Linked DNA regions of Homo sapiens: region 2 is linked to region 1. Evidence: fine-mapped expression QTL. A gene starts in region 1. The other region holds a variant in brackets. All regions are shown on one strand. Distances are between the middles of the regions.

Region 1 (4,403 bases):
TGATTGCCATTCTAAGTGCTTTGCCTCTCCCTTATCTACAAGCGCAGCTGGGACAGTGAGTCATTGGGATTTCAGCTTCTATGTTGGTTGTGACCATTGCGTAAGTCAGTACAAGAAACATGGTAGGGGTAAGGAGGTCAGAAGAGACTTTCTTAAGGAAGTGATCCTGAGCCATGTGCTGAGGATGAGCTAAGGCCCCAACTTTACATAGCTGGTGATACTCACACAAGCAGGCTAAGGGGCCTCCAGTCCTTATGACATAATTAGAGGAGAGCTGGGAGGAATTTCCAGACAACAGCCACCTTCACCAGCCAGCCCTTTTGTCTGATGGTCCACACAAAACTCATTGTATGAGTCAGCAGGATCTAGAAGGTTCACTTCCTCCACAGTGGCCGACAGCTAGAAGACACAGCAGAGCATGTGGGGACCAGGAGAATCCCATAGAGGCAGAGGTGTGAGGAACTAGCAACTGTGGAAAGAATTCCCTTCCCTGAGGGAGGAGATCAGTGGTTAAGAACTATTTAAATAGTCCAAAGTGCACAGTTTAATCTTTAGAGCCCGTAGATTAGATAATAGGAGAAGGGATCCATAAATGCTGGAGCTGATAATCAAAAATCATAGATAGAGGTAGGGCCAGGTTTCCAGGACCATGGGACTGAGGACTCTAGGGAGCCCAGTCCTTGGGGAGCTGTTAGAAAGGCAAGTGCACAGCAGGGATTGGAGCTGGTAAACAGTGAGTGCTGACCCACTAGGGCTTTCATTTCGGGTACTGTCAAGGGTTCAATTGCTAGATTTAATGCTTTGCCTTTCTGCAAATAAAGGCTGTGGGAGCCACACCAGACCAGACTGCAGGGGGATTCTGATAACAGTACTCATGCATGGCATTTAGGTAGCTTTTTAAATGTAAATGTTTTCCGGGAGACATAAAGATGGCATTAGGCATTAACACACACACACCTTAGAGTTAACATCTCAGTTATTTTATGTGTTGATTGTTTATCACAAACATCTACTTGTACATTAATGAGTTAATGAAGTAGGGATACAATGAGGCCTTGCCTTCAAATAGGAATGTAAGACTGCATAGGTACACACACACCCATGTAAACCAATGAAATGAGATATACAATGTGTTATGAGAGGAGCAGATGCAATATTATGAAATTGATTAGGAGGAAGAGAATAACTCAGATTAAGACAAACTGAGAAGGACATCTTGAAGAGTGTTTTTCATTGAGCTTTGGAAAAAATGAAATCTCTGAACATTTCAAGATGAGCAAAAATGGTTTCAGGGAGGAGAAATGCCATGCAGAATGCCCTCTGTAGGGTTTGGGGAAATTAAGAACCATTTGTTTTGGAAATAATATAATGACATAAAGGAAAGCTAGGTTCTAGTAGAGAGTTGAGGAACCTGTGACAAAAAGAAACAGAACAGCTCAGTTTGGATTGTGGGATGAGTCAAGGGGAAACTTCAAAGGGAATCTGGGTGGATTAGGTGATCTGGCAGCATGAAGCCAGGGATGCATCAGGGAGGAAGGGGTGGTTAGAACAGTAGGAGAGAAAGTGCAGAAAAGGGAAAGGAAACTTTTTCTTTGTCACCATTCTGCCATCTACTTACATTAGATGAATCCTTCTATTATGTTTCTGAACCCAGACCCAGCCAGGACTTGTCTCTATTCATTTTCTGGGCTGTGTCTAACAGGAGATAATAGGCTAGAGAGAGATGCTGTATGAACAAATAGAGAAACACATTTGTTTTAAACATTCTCTGTTGCTGATGTTGGAAAAAAATGTGAAACAATTATTGCACATTTCATTTCACTAAGTTTTACCTTTTTTCCCCTTTCCCCTAATTTTCTCTTTCTTGAATTTTGAACAAAATACACAGAAGGAAAACACAAAACACAGAAATGGAAAGTAAAATGGAAGAAAATATCAAGAAAACTTTATTCTTGCTTATATTTTAAAAGGCACATTTTAAAGTGTTATCTTAAAAATCCAGAGCATTTTAGAAGATGAAATGCCAAAAGGTCTCCATTATGTCTATATGTCTATGTCTTTGAGTGACAATCACAGTGCTGATGTAGAGGGAAAGGGGGAACTAGTTAGACACTGTCACTCACCTGGGAAGGCTTTATTCACCTGTTCCACAGGGCAGTGAGGCACCTTCAGCTCTGAATCACCGAAAGAGAATCTGGTGGGGCAAGTTCCAGCTGCATGAGGATTTGCTTGCATAAATATTTTTTACTTATTGCTAACACTGAGGGTGCCTTCTTACTCCCTGGCAAACATTAAACCACTTTTATTTCCTTTCATGGAAATAAGATTATATTTACAGATGGTTCTTAGATATACTCACCTGATTTTTTTTTAATTGCTTTTCCACCTGCTTCCCCTTTCTTCTTAGGGTGAAACTCTAGCCATACGCCCTCTTCTGGTTTCGGGTGAGGAGCCTGAATTGTGGGTATCGTAGTTCTCTTGCCTTTTGGGGTTTCTAGTTGGGCAGCTTTGGAGCCACAGTGGTAGAACTTCAAGTCCCAGGTGGCTCAGGAAGCAGGGGTGCAGTTGCCTGCCTGCATACGGAGCAAGGCATGTTTGAAGAGTACCCGGGTTTGGTAGAGTGACTTCTATTCACTAAAACCATGTGTCTGAACTGAAGAAGCTTGGGCTCACTTCCACAAATGTAAGTGCTGATTTTTTAAAAATAATATTCCTTTCACTATTGATATGTGCTACACACTAGGAAGTTGTATAATTTCCAGAAAAATGTAACAAACCAGCTGCTTAACAAATCAAGCCCTGCTTAAATAAAGGGAAGGTAACTGGTATTCTGTGGGCTTATGGGACATGTGTTAGAATAAACCTCATGACATAGAATAGAATAATACCTTGAGACATGGTTTAGAATAAAGTAGTTTATTTTAAAAAAAAGGAGGAACCCAGGTCACATTAACCATCAAAGGCAAAAACAAAACACTCTATGAGTTGCTTAAAATATGTAGATGGCTGAAATCCCCTAAAAACTTTAAATATCTCAAAAAGCATACAGGTATGTTAAAAAGACTGTGCTTTGAAGATAGATAAAGTTGCAATCAGCAGCCCCACTGCTTATTAGATTTATGACCATTGACAAGATGTTTCACCTCGCAAAGTCTCAGTTTCCTCATCTGTAAAGTGTGTGTGCATAACCTACCTCATTAGGTTAATAGCATTAAATTATGAATAAAAGATAATCATGTAATTAAGTTAAGGGGGTCATTAAATTAGCACAGTGCATTGTACTGAATAGACAGATGATACATGATGGAGGGTAACTTGGCTTCATCCTAATTAAGTTTCAATTAAGCTTGGAAAACACACCAAAGAAACAAAAAGACAAATACTGGATGATTCAACTTACCTGAGGTATCTGGAGTAGTCAAACTCACATAAATGATACTTAGAATGGTAGTTGCCAGGGGCTTGGGGGAAGGAGAAATGAGAGTTGTTTAATGGATATAGAGTTTCAGTTTACAAGATGAAAACACTTGGAGACTGTACAATAATGTAAATATATTTAATACTATTGAACTTAAAATTTGTAAGTGTAAACACTTACAAATGGTTAGGATGGTAAATTGTATGTTAAGTTTTTTACCACAATTAATAAAGATAGATTTTAAAAAATTTATTTTTAAGATCAAAAAGCATGTAGTGAAAATTCCAATGCCTTCCATTTATTAAAGGTCTTCCTAATTTCCTAAAAATGTCTTAAGTCTATATTCAGTGGGTCTAATTTAGGATTGATATTGACTTATCTATGTTAATGTCTGGTTTTTACATAGCAATTACTGGGTGATAATGATGAATTTCAGGTATATTCTTAAAGTTGTCTTAACCTCAGTGGTGATTCTTTTATGCCCCCCTGAACTTAATTACATGATTATCTTTTATTCATAATAGCGATTTTTAATATGATTTCATGGGTAGTGTACAGAATCTAGAAATTATGAAGTCATAATTATTAGTTACAATTTGCTTAAAAGCTTTAGTTATGACTCATTTTTAAAACTTAAAGCAAAAATATTATTTATTCCAGTTTTCTCAACTTCCTTGTAGCTAATTTACAAATAGAATATTTTTATCTGTTTGTGTTTTAGAGATAATAAAAACTATTAAGGCAAAGTTTGTTAAACACCATCTTATCTTAAAATGTATTGGCTGATTTGGAGGACAAAAGACATTTTGGAATTATACTAATTTTGAACTTGAAGACATGTCTGTTGAATTTTTAGAGAATTCTTTCTTGAAAGACCACACATATGCCTAGGTGTCTATTAAGACTAAACATCCCTTATGGCATTTGGTGATAAGTGAAGGTGATAACAACCAGCATTTCAGATGACTGTGCAGAGTTTTACATG
Region 2 (4,403 bases), 85 kb after region 1:
ACTTGTTCATGAAAATAGAGTGAGTCATTGAAAAATCAAATCTTTAGTTATGATTAAGTTATTGTTTTTACCTAAACTGGTTCTACCAAACTCACTCTTTAAAGCAGAATCTGGAATTGGCAAGTCTGATGTAATGCTGATCTTACACATATTAGATTAAATGACCTAATAGAACCAGCTACTGCGCCCTTTCTTATCAGAGTAGAAAAACCCATTCTCTGGGTTTACTCCCAGGAAATACATACTCAATGCTCACTCAGACGTTTTATATCATGACGAAAAATCAAGAAAGGGGTGAAGTGGAGCTAGGGAAGGGTTCAATTACGGTGTAAAGAAAGAAGGCTGCCTATTCATGACAATGGAAACTTTGTCTTCCTCTCTTTGTGTTGGAATTTTTATTTTTATTTTTATTTTTATTTTATTTTATTTTATTTTTTAGACAAGGTCTCCTTGTCTCACCCAAGCTGGAGTGCAGTGGTGCAATGATCGCCTGACCTACCTCCACCTTCCAAGAGTAACAGTGCTCCTGCTCCAATGTGACCTTACAAATCTTACATAGATTTCTCTGTGGTCAACTCTAATCAGCAACACTCAGAGACACTCAGTGAAGAAAGCCCTGGGAAACACTATTTAGTTTAGCCCAGGGGAAATTACAAGGCCATGTCACCTTGAAACTGGAACATGAGGAGAGGTGAGGATGGAGCTGCTGCAGCCATGTTGTTACCATAAAGGGAAAGCCCAGAGCTGCTGGGCAGCTTTGTGGAGCCCAGGGATGAAACTAATATAATCAAATATAGGTAGGGGAACTAACAAAACAAGAACAAAACACAAGTTTGATCACACTCTTCAAGCCTTGGATACTGGAATGCCTGAAACTGCCTCCTGGAGTTTTTAGTTGTGAGAGACAAATTCTTTGTGCCTAATCCAGTTTAAAATAGGTTTTCTGACACCAGCTCTCGAAAGACCGATAAATGACAATTTTGATGTAGGGCTGCTGCGTTTGCTCTAGCTGAAGTTTCTTTGGTGTTTTACAAAACAGTCTTAGATAGCATTAAATCCATCCAGGAGATAAGCAAACAACAGTTAATTTGTATCTTTTTATAGATCAGGTAAAGAGAAAGAAGGAAAGATACTGTGTTTTCCATTTGTAAAAAGACCAGGCCAAACACTGTGGCTCATGCCTGTATTCCTAGCACTTGGGAGGCCAAGGTAGGAGGATCGCTTGAGGCCAGAAGTTTGGGACCAGCCTGGGCAACAGCAAAACCCCATCTCTACAAAAAATACAATTAAAAAAAAATTGTTGAGCATGGTGGTGCACATCCGTGGTCCTAGCTACTCAGGAAGCTGAGGCGAGAGGATCACTTAGCCTCAGCACTATTTGCTGCCTCAGGAAATCTTTCTCCCTCAAGTGCAATTCAAGAAGCTAGTTTTCTGAGTCCTTAGTATGAGACTGGCAATGGGCCTGCTTTTCTATAAACTTCTGCAATAAATCAAATGATAAGTAAATGGAACTTCACTGGCAATATCTGCTCTCTACATACCACTTTACGAATTGCTGATGACATGACAAAACCACCTACAACCCCATCAAGGCCACAGGGGCACCTGGCCTAAGAGGACCAGAGGCAGATCTCCTGTGACTTCAATTACTCTCAAGCAGGACCTATAATGTAGTAGATGCACTTCACCTACTGCTAGAAAGAAGCTGAGGGGAAGAGAGGGACAGAGAAGGAGTTCCCAGAATGCTTGATTGTGAAAATTGTAAGGTTAGAATCGAGTGTCATGACCTGCTGGTGAAAAACAACCATGGCAAATTCCTTCAAACATTTCCTGAATGAAACTAGGAAAGCGGGGTCCAAGCTCAGTGGTATTTCACCTTTCTCAGCCATCTGACTTTTCACTGGAGATCTTTATCTCTTCTTTTGTCTGAGTAATAACCCCAAAATGTTGCCCAAGGGGAAAGTAGAACAGCAACAGCAATTGAAGGGAATTACATGATTCCAAGACATCATCAAAAAATAGGGCAAAATGTAAAGGGATACCACCAACAATGGTGGTGTGTTTGTTCTTTTTTAAAATACCTAACAG[C/G]TTTATTAAGATATAGTCAACATGTCATAGAATTAATCCTGTCTTTTTATTTTTAGGAGCCCATGATCATTTTTTCCTTAATATATAGTTCCTGTTTAATGTTTGTTCAACTATATTCATAATTTGCTGTACATAGAGAAATGCTCTTTGGGATGAAATTGGATATTAGGTTTTTCAAGGTTGAATGGAACGGTGTGGGTTGTGGCAAAATAAGAGATTAGTGATCAAGGTTATTTAAAAGAGGAAGATAAGTAAGTACTTGATATTACATTCCTAAATCTATTTTCAAGTGATTTCACTGATAGTTTAGAAGAAAAAGGAAAATCAAATATCCTTTCACGCTGTTAGAAAAGCTCTATATTTCTTTCTATTTTGATTGCTGAGAAGTTACTGTATGCTTAGGAATAAGAGTCCAGGTTCCAGTGAAACAGGTGCAAACCCACTGCATGTAATTAATCCACCCACCCTGGGTTCCTGTCTCGAGCAAAGTTTTAAATCCATCTTTAATGAGAGCTCTGTTTTGACCACTTAGTATATTCTGTGTTTATCTAGTAAAAAACTGCATTACTGTAGTCCCCCATTATCTGTGGTTTCACTTTCCATGGGTTCAGTTACCTGTGGCCATCCCCGTTCTGAAAATATTACATCACTACTCTTGTACGTTGGGGCCAATATTAAGTAAAAAAATGTTCCTTGAACACAAGCACAAGGAAACAGTGACAGTCAATCTGATAACCAAGATAGGTACTAAGTGATGACGGAAAAGGAAAGAGTGAGACTTCATCACACTATTCAGGATGCCATGCAATTTTAAAATTTATGAATTGTTTATTTCTGGAATTTTCCATTTACATCACAATGCCTACCTCATCCGCCTCACTTCATCTCATCATGTAGGCATTGTATCATCTCACATTGTCACAAGAAGGGTGAGTACAATGCAATAAGATATTTTGAGAGAAAGATCATGTTCACGTAACTTTTTTTTTACAGTATATTGTTATATTTGTTTGATTTTATTATTGTTGATTTCTTAAAGCTTTATCATAGGAATGTATGTGTAGGAAAAATTTACACAGGGTTTGGCACCATCAGTGGTTTCAGGCATCAACCTTGGGTCTTGGAATGTATCCCCTGCAGATAAGGGGGATACTGAGTGACTTAGAAAACAGAAATGTTTCTTACAATCCTGGAGGCTAGAAATAAAATCAAGGTTTTGGCAGGGTTGGATTTTTCTGAGGGCCGTGGGGAAGAATATATTTCTGGCCTCTCTCTTTAGTTTAAAGATGGCCGTCTTCTCCCTGTATCTTTACATGCTCTTCCTTTTATGAGTGTGTCAATGTGTCATGTCCTTTTCTCTTTAGGACACCAGTCATACTGGATTAGCGCCCACCTAGTGACCTCATTTAAGTTACCTCTTGAAAGACACTACCTCTAAATATGGTTACATTCTTAGGTACCAGGGGTTAGCACTTCAACGTGAACTTGAGGGAGGGTACAATTCAGCCCATAATAAAAATTATTTAGTCAGGTTTTTTTTGTTACTAAAACCAACTACTTCGTTCAAATGCATGTTAAACAATCCTGCAATGAGCCTTTTAAAATTTCTGCCCCCTTATTTCTCTATCACCAGAAAATCCTCAATGCCTGAGAAATGAGGGACATTCCAAAGCCACGGATTGATCTGAAATACAGTAAGATGATAGAACTACGCAGCTGGAACTGCCATTGTTCTTTTAATTCAGGCATGATAAAGAGTCAAACTCTGCTTATGGGAACTAATGGTAAACAACATTGGTGTAGGTAATACAAGTTCCAGCCCAGCCTGGGCAACATAACAAGACTTCATCTCTAGAAACAATAACAAACAAAACAAATAAATAAAAAATAAGCTTATTTAATACTCCTAACCTACAGAACATCGTAGCTTAGCCTAGCCTACCTTAAGAGTGCTCAAAACACTTATATTAGCCTACAGTTGAGCAAAATCATCTAACACAAAGCCTATTTTATAATAAAGTGTTGAATAGCTCAGATAATTTATTGAATACTATACCGAAAGTGAAAAACAGAATGGTTGTATGGGTACTTACTCAAAGTCTGGCTTCTAATGAATGAGTATTGCTTTCCCACCACTGTGAAGTCAAAAAAATCGTAGGTCGAACTCGTAAATAAATTGAGGACTGTCTGTTCATACTTGTAGATAATTTCCCTTGGGTTTTCATTGCTGCCAGTATAGGATTTAAGTGCTGCAGAAAAGGAATACTCTTTTTTCTGGTGGGGAACTGTGAAGACAGTCTAAGAACAGATTGTCA

Alleles and levels. Alleles are on the strand shown, and positions count from the first base shown. SD is a standard deviation of normalised expression in the study named.
With allele G in place of C in region 2, the expression in tibial nerve of the gene that starts at base 2,405 in region 1 is lower (moderate effect, 0.52 SD a copy in GTEx).

What was found. PIP is the estimated chance that this variant, and not a neighbour inherited with it, causes the effect.
Region 2: its variant is the best candidate, but not a certain one, in a credible set for the expression of GIRGL in tibial nerve (GTEx, PIP 0.82).

The regions. Positions count from the first base shown.
Region 1 is chr7:20,215,579-20,219,981 of GRCh38, reverse strand. It overlaps GIRGL (glutamine insufficiency regulator of glutaminase lncRNA), which reads right to left and starts at 2,405. Exons shown (of 4, transcript NR_134569.1): 1 at 2,360-2,405; 2 at 1,619-1,726; 3 at 226-399. MACC1 (MET transcriptional regulator MACC1) reads left to right here and starts at 2,598. Exons shown (of 7, transcript NM_182762.4): 1 at 2,598-2,683. RefSeq lists enhancers at 1-88, 5-154, 1,574-2,773.
Region 2 is chr7:20,130,292-20,134,694 of GRCh38, reverse strand. All of the region lies in intron 1 of MACC1-OT1 (MACC1 3' UTR overlapping transcript 1), which reads left to right. It overlaps MACC1 (MET transcriptional regulator MACC1), which reads left to right. Exons shown (of 7, transcript NM_182762.4): 7 at 1-40. Among named protein-coding and RNA genes, the nearest start is that of MACC1-OT1, 7.9 kb to the left of the region's middle. The variant C/G (reference allele first, on the strand shown) is at 2,089.